2 separate regions of the Homo sapiens genome follow, and region 1 is linked to region 2. The links come from fine-mapping of genetic effects on gene expression. A gene starts in region 2. The other region holds a variant in brackets. All regions are shown on one strand. Distances are from middle to middle. Region 1 overlaps RALB (RAS like proto-oncogene B). Region 2 holds the start of RALB (RAS like proto-oncogene B).

Evidence for each region.
Region 1: its variant is fine-mapped to the expression of RALB in lymphoblastoid cells (GTEx, PIP 0.92).

What each region holds. Positions count from the first base shown.
Region 1 is chr2:120,272,401-120,281,923 of GRCh38, reverse strand. RALB (RAS like proto-oncogene B) reads right to left here. Exons shown (of 5, transcript NM_002881.3): 2 at 3,146-3,306. The coding sequence starts at 3,259. Among named protein-coding and RNA genes, the nearest start is that of RALB, 24 kb to the right of the region's middle. The variant A/TCACA (reference allele first, on the strand shown) is at 4,461.
Region 2 is chr2:120,247,172-120,256,694 of GRCh38, reverse strand. It overlaps RALB (RAS like proto-oncogene B), which reads right to left and starts at 3,843. Exons shown (of 5, transcript NM_002881.3): 1 at 3,715-3,843. RefSeq lists an enhancer at 2,791-3,060 and a silencer at 3,561-4,150.

The DNA of each region.
Region 1 (9,523 bases), 25 kb before region 2:
CTTACGAATATTCCCTGGGGAAGCAAAATCCCCCTCTCTCACCTCTGTTAACAACTACTTCCCTAATCCTATCTCCCTAATCCTAATTCCCCTACTCACCACCCCCTCTCTTCCCCAACCTCTGTTATAGGGGAGAAAAAAGCTTTCGTAAGCAAATTATAAGTTTTTGAGCAAAAACAAACAAAAGACCTACAAAGCAGATGCAGATCTCCCAACCTGCTTCTCTTATGCAAAAACGTTTTGGGGAAATTCAGCAGATTACATTAGATTTATCCAGTTTGACCCCCCAGAATAAGATAAAGAAAAGCAGGTACCAAACACAAAAGTGTCTCATTATAAGACATGGGGAGCATGACCCAGGAGGATAACCAGGTTTGGGTTTGAAGCTTATTCATTATGGGGGCCCTTCCTTAAGATACAAAATTACACACGTAATACTGGACATTAAAGTAAATGTTGACATTGAATGAGAAATCATAATCCATTATAAAGTTTTAAAGATGAGTACTCCAGCGATCTCACCCCCGGGTGACTCTCAGTGAGGCGAAGGGAATACCCCCATGTTTCCATTTCATTTTATAAGACCGTCTAGGCTGGCTGGAGACTGTCCTGCCGGCCTTGGAGAAGCAAGCCACTGTGGTATGAGCTGCCTATGGAGACGGCACATGGCAGGGGCCTGCGGGCAACTTGTAGAATCCGAGCACCTGTGTCCTACACCCACAAGGAACTAAATTCTACCAACAATTAGGGAGCCTGGAAGAGGACCCCCACGCCTCAGAAGAGGTCACAGCCCCAGCTGACACCTTGAGTGGAGTCTTGTGGGACTCTGAGCAGAGGACTCAGCTGAGGCTCCAATTCTGGACCCATGGAAACTATGGAATGACAAATGTATGTTGTTTTAACCTGCTAACTTTGTGATTATTATACAGTAATAAAAAAAACTAATACAAACAGCACTGACATCACAAAATCCAGCAAAATAACAATATTTTTATTAATTAAACTGCCTGACATACCTCTAGAATACCTTCTACTTTTTTGTTTGCTGTATACTTTTTCTTGTCATATGCCAATGATTTTGAAACATTCCTATAGAGAATAAAAAATAATTTAGTCTTTCCTTTAGCATGGTTAATGAAAATGTCTTTTGTTCTGACAGCTTAGAAGAGGTTCTTTCAGCTTCACAACTACATGAGTTTTTTTTTTTTTCTTTTTACTTTAAGTTCTGGGATACATGTGCAGAACATGCAGGTTATGTAGGTATACATGTGCCATGGTGGTTTGCTGCACCTATCGACCCATCATCTAGGTTTTAAGCCCCACATGCATTAGGTATTTGTCCTAATGCTCTCCCTCCCCTTGCCCCCCGCCCCCCAAAAGGCCCCAGCATGTGATGTTCCCCTCCCTGTGTCCATGCGTTCTCATTGTTCAACTCCCACTTATGAGTGAGAATATGTGGTGTCTGGTTTTCTGTTCCTGTGTTTGCTGAGAGTGATGGTTTCCAGCTTCATCGATGTCCCTGCAAAGGACATGAACTCATTCTTTTTTATGGCTGCATAGTATTCCATGGTGTATATGTGCCACATTTTCTTTATCCAGTCTATCTTTGATGGGCATTTGGGTTGGTTCCATGTCTTTGCTATTGTAAATAGTGCTGCAATAAACATACATGTGCATGTGACTACATGGCATTTCTAGTAATGAAAGTTTTGGGATTACTGCCAAATTTAGGAAACCTCTATTGAGCTTCACTGTACAAGCTGTAAGATCTGAAAGACTTTTCTGGCCCAGTTTCTAGCTTCTAGCTCTCACACACTTGTGTCAGGTGCCACAGGACAGGTTCGCATCAGGATCCACCCCTGGCCCTGCACCTCACATCACGATGTTCGCACGTCAGCACAGTGGGCGGTTGGAGTACTCCTGCAGCCAGCGATAATCGCCACATGCCGCGTGACTCCAAACCACACCAACACATACCACTATTCCCACCTAACCCAGCCCAACACAAACTCCCTCAGCTAGAGGCCGAAAATGCCCATGGCCACTCCAGCTGCACCCAGCATAAGAGGAAGCAGGACAATGGGAAAGTCTAGTGAAAAGAGGTAGTGATCTTAACTGACGTGGTTGTGATAGCTTTCTTTCGCAAATCTCATAAAGCCATGTGGCCGCAATGCAAGTGAGAGGCCCTGAGGTTTAAGCTCTGCTCGGAACACTCTCCCTGCCTGTACTACAGTCATCCCTCGGTATCCCTAGAGAAATGGTTCCATGACCCCCACCAAATACCAAAATCTGCAGATGCTCAAGTCCTTTACTTAAAATGGCACAGCATTTACATGTAACATCCTCCCGTACACTTTAAATCATCTCTAGATTACTTATAATACATAATACAATGTAAAGGCTACGCAAACAGTTGTTACATTGCATGTTTTAATTTGTATTGTTTTTATCATTGCATTGTTATTTTTCATTGGGTTTTTTTCCCGAATATTTTCATTCCGCAACGTTTCATTCTACATTGCTTGAATCTGCAGATGTAGAGCCCACAGTAGGCTAAGTATCCTAGCAAACAGCTCAAGCAGGGACTTTTGTAGCTCCGGGGATCAAGGCTGTGTTGTCACACTGAACTCAACACCAGTGATGTTATCCACATTAAGTAGGTGACGTAAATTTTGGGCAAGGATAGTGCAAGCTTTACCTTGCCGCACGGGAGAACTGGATCTGATGTCTATCACTTGCGAAAGGATTAAGTTGTATGACAGCTCAGCTCCCCTTTCACTCTCTTTCACTTCGCGATTGACTGACAATCACAAGGCTAAATGCTTGTGTTGTTTGGAAAATCTGTACAAAGGCTCCTCTCTCCTCCCCTGGGCTTTTGTCAGAAAGAAAGCTCGAAGTATAACAATGGAAACGATGCAAGCAGAGATCTCTCACATCCCCGCCGGAGTTGAAATTATTTACCTAGAATCAGCAATCCAGATCTTATGCTGATTAGACCTTCCTAGGAAGCTATTCAGAAGCCACCTCAACACAGACTTGCTCCGTGAACCCCTGTGTACGGGAGGACCGGCACAGAAACAGCGGGAGCAGGGACACTGCTACGGCCAATGCCAAAGGAAGGTGGTCTGTGCCTAGCAGGGCTTACCTCGTCATACATGAACTGAAGCGTCAGGGCTGACTTGCCAACGCCTCCGCTGCCAACCATGATCACCTTGTGGAGGGCCAAGGAGCTCTGGCCCTTACTCTTGTTGGCAGCCATCTCGCTGGTCTTCTGAGGCTGTGACACACAGATGACCCACTGAAGAGCTGCTGATGACAAAGACAAAGACTTAGAGGCGATTTGCTTTCAACCTAGCTAAAACCAAATGTCATTCACATCCTCCATTAAAGCCTAACTAACCCAGACATTCCAACAGGAAAGTAATCCTTTCAGGCTCAGGGCAGACATGCGAGCCCTCCAACAACTCTGGAAGTCACTTACCCCAGCACAGCTGGGGCGAAGCCAAGGCTAGAGGGGAGAAACAGGAGCGCACACCCCACGCCCGCCTCACTGGGCAGGGTGGAGAGGACACCCAGTCACCAAAAATCATCAGACCCTCAGCAGGGCCTCACTGAGGCAGAGACCAAACCGCTCGTAGCTCCAGTTTCCTACCTCTCTGCTCGGTTCTCGGCTGCCGCGGAGAACAGCTTGGGACCTCAATCCCCAGCTCTTTAGCTTTACTCCTCGCTTTGCCCTCTTACCCTCTACCCCACAACACGCACACACTCACAACACGCTCACACACGCTCTCACATTCACACTCACAAACGGTCACTAACACACTCACACATGCCCACATTCACACACATGCTCACACTCACACACGCTCACATTCACACACACTCACGCTCTCACATTCACATTCACACATGCTCACACACTCGCACACACATTCACACATGCTCTTATTCACACACATTCACTCACATTCACACATTCACACTCGCTCACACACGCTCACATTAACTCACATTCACACACACGCTCACACTCATTTTCACACTCATGTTCTCACATTCACACATGCTCATGTTCTCACATTCAAACACACATATTCACACACTTGCTCTCACACGCTCTCACACACTATCACAGGCTCACACATGCTAGCACACGCTGTCATACATGCTCACATTCACACACAAGCTCACACACTATCACACACGCACTATCACACACACCCACATACACACTTTCACTCATAACACGTTCACAACGCTCTCACAACACTTTCAAATTTGTGCTCATGTACACTCACAAGCTCACATGCTCTCACAACACACACTCCATACACTATCACACACTTGTCCTCTCATAGGTGCACTCACGCTTTCACACACACACACAACTACACACTCACATACGCTCTAACGTTCACATGCTCATACCACACATACATGTTCATGCTCACACCACATAC[A/TCACA]TGCTCTAACACATGCTCATATCACAGGCTCAGAGGCTCTAACATGCACATGCGTGTTCACATGCTCTCACACATACATGTTCACGCCACCACACACATGCTCTCACACACATGTTCACATGCTCACACCACACACAATCTCACATGCTGTAACACGTTCACAGAACACACACGCTCTCGCACATGCTCCCATGCACTCTTATGCTCTCATACACTTTCTCACACACACATATGCTCTCACACTCTTACACAGCCCCACACATCCCTCTGGTTGATTAAAGAAGTGAGTTCAAGAACAAATACCCCTTCATGACATGAGAGTTAAAAGGAGAAATCTCAAAATCAATTTGCCCTAATCAGAAGGAAGATAAAATGAGTAGAGCAACTCCAGTATTATGGGACAACAAAGCATCCCAAGTAAGTATATTTAACAGGGACCTGGAATCTACCGTAACCCAAGTGCCAATCTTTATTTTAACCAATTTGTATGGAAAAATCTATTTCACATATACCAAAACACAAGAATAAAGGGCAGGGCTTGGGCATCTGGCAGGCATGAGTGTGGTTCTGCCATTTGTGAGCTGCGTGACCCTAGAACTAGTTCAATGTCTCCAAGCCAGTTTTCTTATGTGCATAAAACCAACCACCACCTACCTTGCAGGAATGTTCTGAGGACTAAATAGGATATACATGGAAAACACCAAGGCACAGACCCAGCACCCAGTAGGAATGAACCAATGTTGTTTTCCATCCCATCTAATTGTAAGAGTGATACAGGAGGTAGAAAGAGACCATTTAGGCAGATAGTGAGGGCAAAGAGTCCTCGGCAGAACTTCCTCCTTTTTTTTTTTTCTTTTTTTTGAGACAGAGTCTCACTGTGTCACCCAGGCTGGAGTGCAATGGAACGATCTCGGCTCACTGCAACCTCTGCCTCCTGGATTCAAGTGATTCTCCTGCCTCAGCCTCCTGAGTAGCTGGGAATACAGGCACGCACCACCCTGCCTAGTTAATTTTTGTATTTTTAGTAGAGATGGGGTTTCACCATGTTGGCCAGGCTGGTCTCAAACTCCTGATCTCAAGTGATCCACCCCCTGCTCAGCCTCCCAAAATGCTGGGACTACAGGTGTGAGCCACTGCACCTGGCCAGAACTTCCCTTCTAACAAAACACAGCCCAAGAAATCAATTATTTTCTAAAAAAGAGCAGCCTGGAAGATCAGGTTACAAACATAGATAAGGAAGCCGGAGGCTTGCACAGCTGCATGCCAGCGGCTGCACCAATAGAAGGGCTACCTGGGGCCAGGCAGGTCCACCATGGTGGTTCCACCTCCCCCATTTTTAGCACATGTGCAATAGGAAAGAAATAAGCAACATAGAGTAGCTCAGGCTGAGGACTCGCCTGCATAATAAAAGACTGTGGTGGGTGCTGCCAGAGAGTCATGCCTTATGCAGATGGCACACTTGGTCCTAACTGGTTTTCCACACCCTATGTAGATCAGATACTGCCTCCCCACTAGCACATCTGTAAAAACCCCTGCATTTCACTGCAGGATGGCAACCCTTTTTCCAGGACTACTCTCTGTGGCAGAGAACCGTTCTCTTTCTTTCTCCTATTCAATTTCTGCTCTAAACCTCACCCTTGGTGTGTCTGCATCCTTGATTTCCTTGGCCATGAGACCAAGAACTCTGGATGTCACTCCAGACAACGAGGCCACTTTACGAGAGTGTTCATTCTAACTACAACATGGTGGACTCCTATTTCCCTTACTGCTGACGAGATAGCCTGAAAACATCCCCACTAGAAAAATAAACACACACAACACACACACACATCACTGGGCGAAATAAAACAACATCATCTTAAATCAGTGGTTCCCATTCTTAGCTATACAACAGAATCATGCAGGGAGCTTCAGAAACATCCTTACACCTGGGTCCCACCCTAGATTCTGAAATAATTGGTCTGAGATGCAACCTGGGCATGGGAAATTCTAAAAGATTCCCAGGTGATCCTCATGAGCAGCCAAGGCTTAGAATTGCTCTTAAATGCACAGCTGAGCTCAAAAGAAAGTAAGGATCCCCAAACAGGAGAGAATCAGAGCAGTAAGAGCGGCAGTTCCTGCAGTTCTGGATGGTTGCTGTTCTTGGTAATTTAGGATTTAACGTACATGTGCATGTGTGCGCATGCACACACACACATTCACATGGCTGGGAGACCAGACATACACACAAGGTAGCAGTTAGAATTGAGACACCTTTTCAATTGGGAACTGAGAAGTCAAGACCCTTGAAGGAGCACACCATCTGTGCGCCAACAGAGGAAAATGACAAGGAAGCTTGTCTGGGCTCTGGCTGTAGGGAATTCTCCCCTGAAAACCTATACCCACAACACTCCTCTAAAGCCAATAAAGTAACATGAAAAGTGGTCCCAGGCTGCTCATAGTGCTGGAGGCCCAGGCAATGCTAAACGAAACCTCTCTGGGGGAACAAGGGGCAATGAGTGTTCGGGAGTCTCACAGCTAAAGCCTAAAATTCCAGCTCACAAAACACAAGCAAATCGCAATTCATGAGAGTCAATGGCAGTAACAAGCAGGACTCTTCAGGCAAATATTATAAAAAGTATTAGTTGATCAATTTTAACAAAGACAAAGGCAAAATGTGAAAAAAATGACATCATTGAAAGACCTGATGGAGTTGAAAAAGAACCATTCTGAATGCTTAAAATACTTTTTAAGTATTTTAAAAGTAACGATGCTCATAGCAAATTTACAGAATACACATAAAAAGCACCTATGATCCTACCACCCAGAGATACTCACTATTAACTGTGTATACCAGAATTTTATCTATACCTTCCTATATTTAAAACCTGTTTGAGGCCATTATTTATGTAGTGTTGCAAGTTACTTTTCATGTATTAGATTTCTCTGTCTTCTGAAACAGCACAGACTGAACATAACCAAGCTTTCTCTTGACGACCTCAGGGCACTCATCAGTTTGTGAAAGGCCTTGGCTGCCAGGAGTCCAGATCACATTTGCTCTTCTCCCCCCTACTCTTGACCGCCTGCCTACACCAGGCGTTCTTTCCACTCCCCCTTTGCAAATTACGTACTTTTTTTTTTTAAATAAGTGAGCTAAGCAAGTAACTAGATAAGTAAGCACATCTGAAATGTGGCTAAAATAGAATAAATGGAATAAGAGGCAGACCTCCCCAAAAGGCTTGAGTTTAGGAAGGTGAAACTACTTCTGGCCTCATTTCTGGTCCACACTGTTTCCTACAGAGCTGAGGTTTGTGAATGAGGTTGGAACCTCCAGACCATCAACCTGTCACACAATTTCTCTGAATCAATCCTGGTTCTATGAATTATTATGGCTGTCTGAAAAGGATATTTTTCCAGGTTGGGGGGGATCCTTGCAAACACGTGTAGTTATCTAATTCTGAACTGCTGTTTTCAAAAACAAGTCAATTTCTCTAGAAGAAATAATAAATGAATTGAAAACTATTCAACACACCCCGATACTTCCCAAAATATCTGTGCTTAAAGTTCAAAAACTGAAATAACCATGGTGGATATTTCCAGCCTGTATCACTGCTTCAGTCAACTTGGCATAATTAAGGGAAAGAACAGGGAAGGTAGAGGTGCTGACCACATGCCCCTCACTGAACCAATCCTAGAAACAGCAACCTCCAGACTTTGGGTGAAACTGCCTTTGCAAAGATTCTGACAGTGAAAGAAGCTGAACGTGCTGACTCCATCTTGCCTCTGGTCTTACAGGTCGGCGTCTTCTCTTATTCCTGGGCATAGGCCACACCAACCCTGAGAGGAATTTCTAGTTTAACAAGGATAATAATAGTCCCTCCCTAAAATTGATCCTTTCCTTGTTCAGGGACTGAAACGGCCTTTATAAAACTAGTAAAAGGCCAGGAGATTAGAATTATGGGAGGGGCCTGAGTTCTGCTAAAATATAGGCCTCCTTCCTATAATCCCTTACTGCTCAGGAGTCATGTGGTCAGAGGTCACAAGATGTGGACTACCCCAGTTGCTCCTATAGATAACATCAGTATTGCAGAACCTAAGATTGGTCTTTTGAGATGTTTTTCAGACTGACCCCACATGGACTTATGACTCAACCAGTCCTGTGGTTCCTCGCCACCATCCAGAGGTGAACTCAAGGGCACAAGCACCATTTTCTACACCCCTATAGTTGCATCCCCAACCAACCAGCAGCACCCATTCCCTAACCCCCTGCCTACCAAAACATCCTTGAAAAACTCTAAACTCTGAGCCTTTAGGGAGACTGATTTGACTGATAATTCCAGTTCTCCCATGTGGCCAGCCTCGAGTCCACTGAACTCTCTTTACTGCAATACCATGGTCTCAGTGAATTGGTTTTGTCTGTGCAGTGGGCAGGAAGACCCAACGGGCGATGACACAGGGTATTAGAGATAAGAAACTTCTAACTGTTTAAGCCACAAAGAGTCCACTGTTGTGTTTGTTTTTTCTTGTACCAAAAACATTCCAGAACACAGTCTTTGCCCTCAAAAAACTCAAAGACTAGTGGTTCAGACAGATTAGTAAGTAAATGATTACAGTACAAGATAATAAATTCTATGGCAGAAGTATGCAAGTGGTGCCCTGGGAACACAGAAAGACATATCTGTATCAGGCTGGAAGGTCAGGGGAAATTTCCTGGAGGGACATCGCATGAACTAAGAGCTGAAGGAACTGACTAGATAAAGACAGGAGGAGAAAGAGCAGGAAGGAAAAAAAAATCAGTTAAGTTTAGGAAGCTCACGTTAATGATTTAATACCTATAATGGAAATGCCTAGCCAATAAATGTGTTCTTAAAAAAATACAGGTATCTTCCCCAACATTTTATCCCAAAAAGTTTCAAACACTAAGAAAAGTTGAAACAACCATCCTGTGAATCCATACACTCACTGCCTGGACTTTACAATCAACATTTTGCTCCATTTGCTTTATCACAAATCCATTCATCTGTCGTCCCTCTCTCTACCCATCAGTGCACCTCATTTTCCGATATATTTCAGTGTAAATTGCA
Region 2 (9,523 bases):
GACTGGGTAATTTATAAAGGAAAGGGGTTTAATTGACTCACAGTTCCGCAGGGCTGGGGAGGCCTCAGGAAACTTACAATCATGGCAGAAGGAACCACTTCACAGGGCAGCAGGAGAGAGAATGAGTGCCAGCAGGGGAAATGCCAGACGCTTGTAAAACCATCAGATCACGTGAGAACTCACTATCAGGAGAACAGTATGGGAGAAACTGCCCTCATGATTCAATTACCTCCCACCGAGTCCCTCCCACAACGTATGGGGATTATGGGGATTACAATTCAAGGTGAGATTTGGGTAGGGACACAGCCAAACCATATCAGCCACGAATATACTGCTGCTTCCATCTTGATCATTATCATATTCATTCTCTCCCTCTCTCCCCACCCCCGTCAGATCACTTGCTCTGGGGAGAAAAGCTATGTTGTGAAAAGCCCTGTGCATAGGCCCACATGGTGTAGAACTGAGGCCTCCAGCCAACAGCCATGTGAACGTGCCATTTTGGAAACAGATCCTCTGGTCCCAGTCGAGCTTCAGATGACTGCAACCTCAGGAGAGACCATGAGCCAGAAGCACCCAGCCAAGCTGTCCCCAGATTTCAACTTCAGAAACTGTGTGAGATCATAAATGTCTGTTGTTTTAAGCTGCTAAGTTTGGGGAAATTTGTTATGCAGCAACAGAAAACTCATTCAAAAGGTAGGCAAACTTTACAGGCAGCCAGGCACGCAGGACCAAACTACTATATTTCCTTCATCTCATGCCGTATAGCTTGGAACAATGCTATATATAAAAAATGCCCACAAAGCACTGACAAAAGCAACAATGAAAACAATATATTGGTAATTATCAATTAATGGCATTTTTCTTTTCTGCATTTAGATTTCAACTAAAAAACAACTAGCCACCATCACCAAAAACAAAAACAGCCAGGAGAACACTAAGGAAAATTATAAGCAGCTACTTTTTTTAAAGTGACAAACTTGAAATTGAGACCTGGCTAGAATTTTGCAATTGCTTCTAGTAAGCACATATACCGTCCCTCTTTGACACTCACTTCCACATCCTCTTCATCTTTCTTTCCACTGTCACCTATCCAAGACTCATCAACCCTCTTGCCTACTGGCCCCTCTGCTTTTTGGAATATCTAAGAATATATGTACACATACACCAATATTTATATTCCTAGGTACCAAAAGAACTGAGGAGCTAAAGGAGACAGCCCATGGTCAAATCTCCAAGGCCACATATTTAACTGGTATGGCTTGGATCAGTGGTCTGTGCCAAGCAGACAGCTGATGCTCAGTAACTGTTAGTTTTTCTCCTCCTTAACTACTCCGCCATGTGATGAAGGAAGAGTTCCTTTTCCTCTGTGCTCGGCTCTCTTTGCGATAACATTCAGAACATACATTCATTTAAAAAAACAAAACGAAAAAAAAACCAAGCGTCTTGCATGTCTAGAGCAGGGGCTGTTTAGCAGTAACTGGAGCCAAGGAAAAGTGGGACTCCTGTATACCATCTGGAGACAAGTTACACTGGAAAACTACAGAGTTCACCTAGATCTCTTCGCACTCTAGTCTTACATTGTCTCCAAATTTAGCTTTCAAGAAAGGTCTCTAATGATGTTTCTAACTTCCATAAGTTACATGAGGGGGGTAAGAATTTAGCAACTAAATGCAAAGAGGCATAGTAGGATTACGTGATTTGGAAGAAAGAATTATCCCTGCCAGACGGGGTGGCTCACACCTGTGATCCCCAGCACTTTGAGAGGCCAAGGTGGTAGGATGGCTTGAGCCCAGCAGTTCGAGACCAGCCTGGGCAACATGGTGAAACCCCATCTCTACAAAAAATACAAAAATTAGCTTGGCATGGTGGTGCAAGACTGTACCAAGCTACTCGGGAGGCTGAGGTGGGAGACTCACCTGAGCCTGGGAGGTGGGGGCTGCAGTGAGCGGTGATCACACCACTCCACTCCAGCCTGGGAAATAGCGCAAGACTCTGCCCCCAAAAACAAACAAAAAAAGGATTATCTCAATTCTCAGGCTTAAAATTTTTCATGGAATCTCAAGCCATCTTCAGTCAAGGCAAGAATTTAGAACTTTTCTACCCTCATCTTCTACCAAAATCTCTTCATATGCCGTGGAAGACTCTAAATCCTGTTTATCCTTATGGTCTAGGTCCCAAGTTCCCAAAAGATATCTAATAACTTACACTATTTTCCACACACAATCCTGGGAAAATGTTCTATTCCTCGGGCAGAGGGAAATCTGGCTGAGATCTCCGATAAGAGTGCTGTTTCCAATGGGAAGCAATGTGAATGGGCAAGGAAGGAAAGCCCCAGATGTGGTCAGAATAAAGCAGACCGGCTGACAACTAAAGCCACGCACAAAGGATATGTCTCCCTGGCCTTCTTCTCCCCCGCTCCTATTTCGTTTAATCCTAACAATTAGGATAACTATCATCACCCTTCTACAGTTGCTGACTCTGGAGCTCAGAGGGGGAAAGATCGTGCTCCACATCACAACACCGGTAAACTCTCAGAACCTGCATCAAACCCAGGTCTTCAAACTCACCCCTCCTGTTTTTCCCAATATGCAGTGCTACCTTTCATGGTCGGCCCATTTCTGGGAACTTCGATACTGTGCTTCTATTGCTCCAGGTTTAAGGAGCATTCTGAGCCTTGACCGGTTCTGAGCTTTGACATCCAACAATCTTATGGCTCTGCTTGGAACATCAGTCATTGACACCTCTAAAAGATTCACTATCCCCTCTGATACTCCATGCCCACCATCCATCCCCAAAACTTCAGAAGAAATGAGGTTAGGAAACCAGGACAGAGCAGAAAGTGCACTGTTCTACAAGGGCTGAAGATGAGTCACAGGTAACCCAGATGAGCAATCAGCCAAGTCTCTTCCACGGCCAATTCATTCAGTCCGCCAGGCACAAGCACTTCTCTCCCGAAGACTCACCTGATAAGAACACCAAAGTTCCAACGTTTCTCGTTGGAAATGAGCACAGAGAGGACACTGCTCACACAAGCAGTGTGGACGCAGCAAGCTCCGCGCCCCGCAACCCTGCACCGAGCACGGTTAACCTCACACTCCCACAGGCGGCAAGAACCGGGACGGCGATGCCCAGTCCAGGCGCTTCCCCTTAGAAGCCCCTTCGCCGCTGGCCCCTATCAGAAAGGAAAGGGGAGGAGGCTGGGGGAGAAACAACTTTATGCTCATTTGCAAGACAGGACCAAAACAAAACCAGCAAACCGAAGCCCTTTAGGAACACCGCCCAGTTCACGGCGCGTGCAAGTTCCGAGGGCAGTTAAGTTTTTGCAACACTTCCCAGCCCTGACCCTGCCCAAGCCGCGGCCGGAGGACTGAGGAAGTGGACGGTCCCGAGCGGGAGGCCCGCGGCAGGAAGTGGAAGCAGAGCCATCTGCGGGATAGGGAAGGAACCGCGGCTACAAGGGAGAGGCGGAGGCCGCCCCCACTTCCTCAGCCCCAGGCAGCCCAGGAAGCCGAGACTCCCCCAGGGAGTCCTCCCGGAGCGGAGCGGGGCCGCTGCCGGGGCGTCGCCCTCCGCCGGCCTCGGGGCGCGACATGTCCTGCCGCCGCCCGGCCACAGCCCGGCACGGAGGGAGCAAGAGGCTGCGGGCGTGCGGCGTACCCCACTCCCCAGCCCGCGCCCCACCCCGCCCGGGGCCCGCGGGCGCCGCGCCCTTACCAGGGACCAGTCCCGCCGCCTCCGCCGTCCGCACCCGGCCCGCAGCTCTTAAACGCGCCCCGCCCCCTCCCGGGGCCGGACCCCAGCCGTCCTCCACCGATTTGTCATTGAGCTGCCGGGCTCGCTTTCCCACCCCCCGAGCGCGCCTCCGGCGTCGCCTAGGCAACCCCTCCTCTCGAGAGCGCGCCCTCGCTTCCGTTCTTGCCCTCTCCTCGGAAGCCACGCCCGTCGGGGGGCTGTCAGCCAATCCGAGGCTGATTTTCCAAGCAGCGGGCGGCCGGGGAGGAGGTTTCACCAATGAGAAGCTGCCCCAGGCACGGGGGGGCGGGCCCAGCGCGCCTGCCCCGTCCCCCTCTGTTTCTCTCTCTGCCCCTCGGACACGCAGCTGGTAACCCTGCGGCAGTGGAGGAGCTGCCCGCCGGTATTGAGGGCGGGTGCGGGTGCACAAGGTGGGGCGCCAGTTGTGGGATTCAGGCCAGGGCTAGGACGAAGTAATGGAAAGCAAAAGCGAAGGACAGACCTGATCATACAGAAACAGAAGAAAATTACGAGGTGGCGAAGAGTGCTGGAGCGCGGCGATGGGGATGCCGCCCGGGGGTCTTGGGGCGGGACTCCACCTGCCGCCACCACTCGCTTCGCTGATGACATCCCATTAGCAGTAATGGAGTTAGTGAGTGCATGGCGGAGACTGGACCCAGGCCGCCTACAAGGGCCAGAATCCCACCCCAGCCATAGCCTCGAGGCAGGAAGTGCAGTGGGCAAGCTCCCTGCCAAAGCCCAGGAACGTGTGATTTTGTATCCAGTACAGCTTCATCTCGGTGGATTTTCCTTCCTAACCACCTCCTCCTCCACAGGTTTTGTGACCGTGCTGACCCCTACGCAGACCTCATGAGAGTCACAAGCCATCGCAACTGACAGTTTAAACGTCTGCCTCTTATCTCTAAGGGAGGGAACTATCTCTTATGCAATGTGATATCCATGGCTGCTAGCACAGTGTAATTAATTCTTTCATTGTTGATCATTGTAAGTTAGGATGCATGTGTATACTATATTGGAGGCTTTGGGCCATGATTAGATTGCTATGTATCTACCAGATCCAGTCCCTCCATCAGCATCTATATCAAAAAGCACAGAAGCTTTACCTTAGTCTTAAGTGACCAACTTAACAAAAAAGTGCAATCAGAAGAATATCCTAGTGTTAGCCTACTAAGTATTCTGTTTTTACCATTCTCATTCACATTTAAAACTTTTATTGAGTGCTAATCGTATGACAGACACTTTGCTAGGTACAGTAAGGAGATGGGGTAGGAGGCTTCTCAAAGAGGAAGCTCCCTAGTATTTATAACCTAGAAGAGGAATCAGACCCAAACCTTTTCTTACGGAGTAACAGTTAAGTGCACAGGTTTGGAGTCTGGAAGCATAGGATTAAAGGAGGGCTCTACCTTGTGACTAGCAGTTACTTAATTAGGAAACTACTTCTGTGGGCTTTAGTTTCACCAGCTGCCCAATAGCAGCACCTCCATGCTATAGGTAAGAAGATGTACATGCAAGTCCACATAGAGCTCTCAGTACAGTGCTAGGAACTTGGTGAGTGCCTCAGGAATGTGAGCTTACATTAGTGATTGCCACCAGAGGCCACGATGTACAGTCAAGTGTGTGATCACCAATCTGGTACAGCCTTATCTCCCAAAGCCCATCTGTATCAAGTGTGACCGCGTGCAGCCTGGTGGAAAGGGCCTGCTGTGGTGGTACCCTTTGTCAAATGCAAGTATAGAGAGGAGAGCAGCTGCAGCAGCCTACCCAAGTGAAAAGGGTATGATAGTTGAGGGAACAGGGTCAGAAATCAGGCCACAGGCCAGGATTCTACTGTTCCCACCTGCCCCCCATCCCCTAGGACCCACAGCAGATGCAGGAGGTTTCCCCACCTTTTCTGGGGTGCTGAAGTGCCATTCCTTTGCATTGGTAACAGGATGCACAGGGCTTTCTGAGAAATGCTGCTTTCATTCTCTGCCTGCCTAGAACTCGGAGGGGTCCTACTGGGACTCCTCCAGCAGGATCATCTATTCAGATCCTGGACATGCCAGACCCTGAGCTGTGCAGTATATTCAGAGAGGAGTGGCAGGACCCTTTTGGCGGGGCTGTCTCACACAGGACACCAATAGGGGAAACGTGTCCCAACGGGAGAAGGGAACCAAGAGGCCACCAGCCTCAGCTGCCTCTAAGGTGGCTCATTCCAGGTCTCAGGGGACCTCTTGTCTGCTGAGTTTCCCTACCAGAACTCTGACTCCCAGCAGAGCCAGGGGCTTGAGCAGCAGAAATACAAGATCCCCAGCAGGACTCCTTAAGGATGCTGTAAACGACTGCTGCCATGGAAAGAGCATTCTAGACACTCCATCCTTCTAAAGTATTTATTGATTACTGTGGGAGTCTTTAGTGCTGTCTGACAAACATTTCTACTCCTCTCTTGTGAGCACTGGAAACTTCCTAGCCCTGTAGTTGGGTGGAGCCATGTGACTAGCTCTAACCGATCACTTGTGAGCAGAAATGACACATAATCATTTCTAGGCTGGAGAAATTAATTGCCAATATAAGACCCTCCAGAGCTCTCTTGTCCTTGGTATGGCTACTGAGAATGTTAGGAAATGTGACTGCTCCATCAGCCAGGGTTTCTACAATGAGCACAGGCCCCCTACCAACCTGTGATGGACATTTAGAATGACTGAGAAATAAGCCCTTATGGTTTGAAGACACTACGATGTGGGAGTTGTTTGTTACTGCACATAGCTTAGCCTGCTCTGACGGATGCAAGGTGAACAACTCACACAAAAGGACAGAGAAGAGGCCAGTAAACAGACAAGCACCCCAAAAATTACAAATTATGTCATTACAAATTATTTTAGACTGGGTGGTCAAAAAAGATCTCTCTTGGGAAGTGACATTTAAGCTAGGACCTCAAGGATGAGAAAAATCAATCTTAGCAAAAGATGGGGGTAGGAGGAAGGACAGGAGAGTATTTCAGGCAGAGGCATAAGCCTGTGCAAAGTCCTGAGGCAGAAGAAAGCTTGGTACTGCTGAGAATGGCCAGGAGGCCTGGAATGGTGAGCAGGGGAAAGTGAGTCACACAGGGCTGGAAGGGGAGGCAAGAGCCAGATGATGCAGGGGCTTCTCGGTTATACAGAGGAGTTTGAAATTTACTCCTAGTGCGGTAGAAACTGCTGAAGAGGTTTGATATGGTTTGGATGTGTGTCCCCTCCAAATCTCATGTTGAAATGTAATCCCCACTGTTGGAGGCGGGGCCTGGTGGGGGGCTGTTTTGATCATAGGGACAGATCCCTCATGAATGGCTTAGTGCTACTCCTTGGCAATGAGTGAGTTCTTGCTCTGAGTTCACACAAGGTCTGGTTGTTTAAGAGTGCGTGGCACCTCCCCGCCTATTCTTATCCCCGCTCTCAGTATGAGATGCACCTGCTCCCACTATGCCTTCCGCCATGACTGGAAGCTTCCTGAAGCCTCCCCAGGAACAGATGCCAGTGCTATGCCTCCTGTACAGCCTACAGAAACATGAGCTAATTAATAATTAAGCCTCTTTTCTTTATCAATTACCCAGTCTCAGGTATTTCTTTATAGCAACACAAAATGGACTAACACGGACGGGCGCGGTGGCTCACGCCTGTAATTCCAGCACTTTAGGAGGTGAAGGTGGGTGGATCATGAGGTCAGGAGTTTGAGACCAGCCTGGCCAACATGGTGAAACCCCATCTCTACTAAAAATACAAAAAAATTAGCCAGGCGTGGTGGCAGATGCCTGTAATCCCAGCTACTCGGGAGGCTGAGAAGAGAGTTGCTTGAACCCAGGAGGCAGAAGTTGCAGTGAGCCAAGATCATGCCACTGCACTCCAGCCTGGGCAACAGAGCAAGACTCCGTCTTAAAAAAAAAAAAAAAAAAGACTAACACAAGGTTCAAACAGGAGGCTGACATGCTTTGATTTTGGTTTTAAAAAGATTACTCTGGGTCAGGCATGGTAACTCATGCCTATAATCCCAGCACTTTGAGAGGCCAAGGAGGGTGAATCTCCTGGGGTCAGGAGTTCAAGAACAGCCTGGGCAACATGGCGAGACCCCATTTCTATAAAAAATAAAAAAATTAGCCAGACAGTGGTGCACACCTCTGGTGCCAGCTACCAGGGAGGCTGAGGTAGGAGATTGAGTGAGTCCAGGAGGCGGAGGCTGAGCCCAGGAGGCAGAGGTTGCAATGAGCTGAGATCGTGCCACTGCACCCTAGCCTGGACGACACAGCAAGAAGCTGTCAGAAAAAAGAAAAAACATTACTCTGGCTGTGGTGGGGAGATTGGGCTGTGAGGGTTGGATGTGGAACCGAGGTTAGGATGCTGTTCCGGGGGTCCACGCACAGTGGGGTCCTAGACAGGGTAATCAGCTCTCAGATCAGAGATTTGGAGAGATTGCAGGAGGAAGGGAGCAAGAGAGCTGAAGAGAGCTGAAGACCAAACAGAACAGTCTTCCTGCCAAACCCCAGAGGAACCAGAGGCAAGGTTTGAAGTTTAGATCCCTAGAGGTGCTTTGACACCAGGGACATGGGTACTCAAAAGCCAGGAAGGAAATGGGGGAGGGTATGGATTTCCCAGAACATCAGCCAGCAGTGGAGACTTGCTTCCATGAGCTGGCAGGAGTGTATTCATAGACCGTATTATTAGAAAGAGGCCCGGCAAGCTTCTGTGGGCATCCCTGGGGGCATTTGATCTTTGGTAACCGCATCAATTAGAAAAGAAAAAAGGCTGCCAATCTACAGATGGGGGAACAGCCATTCTCACCTGCTGATGATTCTGGACAGACACTATTCCAAGCAGCCACAGCAAGAGGAGCTTGCCCTCGGCCCTTCTCTCAGCTTTCCCCTCTGCGTTTCACCACCCCTCACTGCCCAGAGGTTCTCGCCTCACTTCCTGCTGTCTGGTCCTGTTCTCAGGCATGGGTTGCACAGGCTCATTCCCGTGCAGGAATAAATGGCTAGTTACAGCTCCATTCCCATTCCGTCCTGGGCACTTGATGAAAACCTGAAGTTCCAGGCTGTGGGAGGTCTTTAGAGGAGGACCTAAGATCTTTAATTCACATCACTAGGATGGAGGGATCTACCCCTCATCCAAAAAAAGCTCAGACTCCTGAGTTCTCATGCAAAGCACCAGGTAAGGGCAATGCGTCGCGGGAACCCTCGTGGAGCGCCTAAGCAGTAGCCCTGAGCCTTCCTTTCCTTGCAGCCTTTTGCAGGCAGCTACCAAAAAAAGCTCTTGCCCTTTACTGATTCCCAAACATATTCAAACGCTTGACTCTGTTTCTCAGTTTAGTCATTGTCACTAAACTGTGGTAAGTCATTGCCACTAAACTGTGGTAAGTCAGGACTTTACGAGGGACTTTAAAAACCACTTTTCCCTAAGTGTGGTATTGAGGGCTTCTCTTTCCCCATCACCATCTCTCAAGGTGGTCCCTACAGCCCAGCCAGCCAGCAGGCACTCACCAGATGTTCCTGGGAATTGCTCTCTTAGAAAGTCAGAGGCCCAAGTCATTTGCTAAAGGAGAAGCTTTCATCTTCCAACAGGAACAAAGCTACTTGGGAAACACATTAGGAAAAAAACCCATGCATCTCAATTTCAATTTTAAATTATTTAATTAGCTGGACTTATCTTTCTGCTGTCATAGTTTACAAAGAGTTATCTCCCAGAAGTGAAGTCAAGTCTGTCTTGTAACTGAGACATACGCCTTCCTCACTATTGCTCATCCCCACTGCATGTCCTCTCGT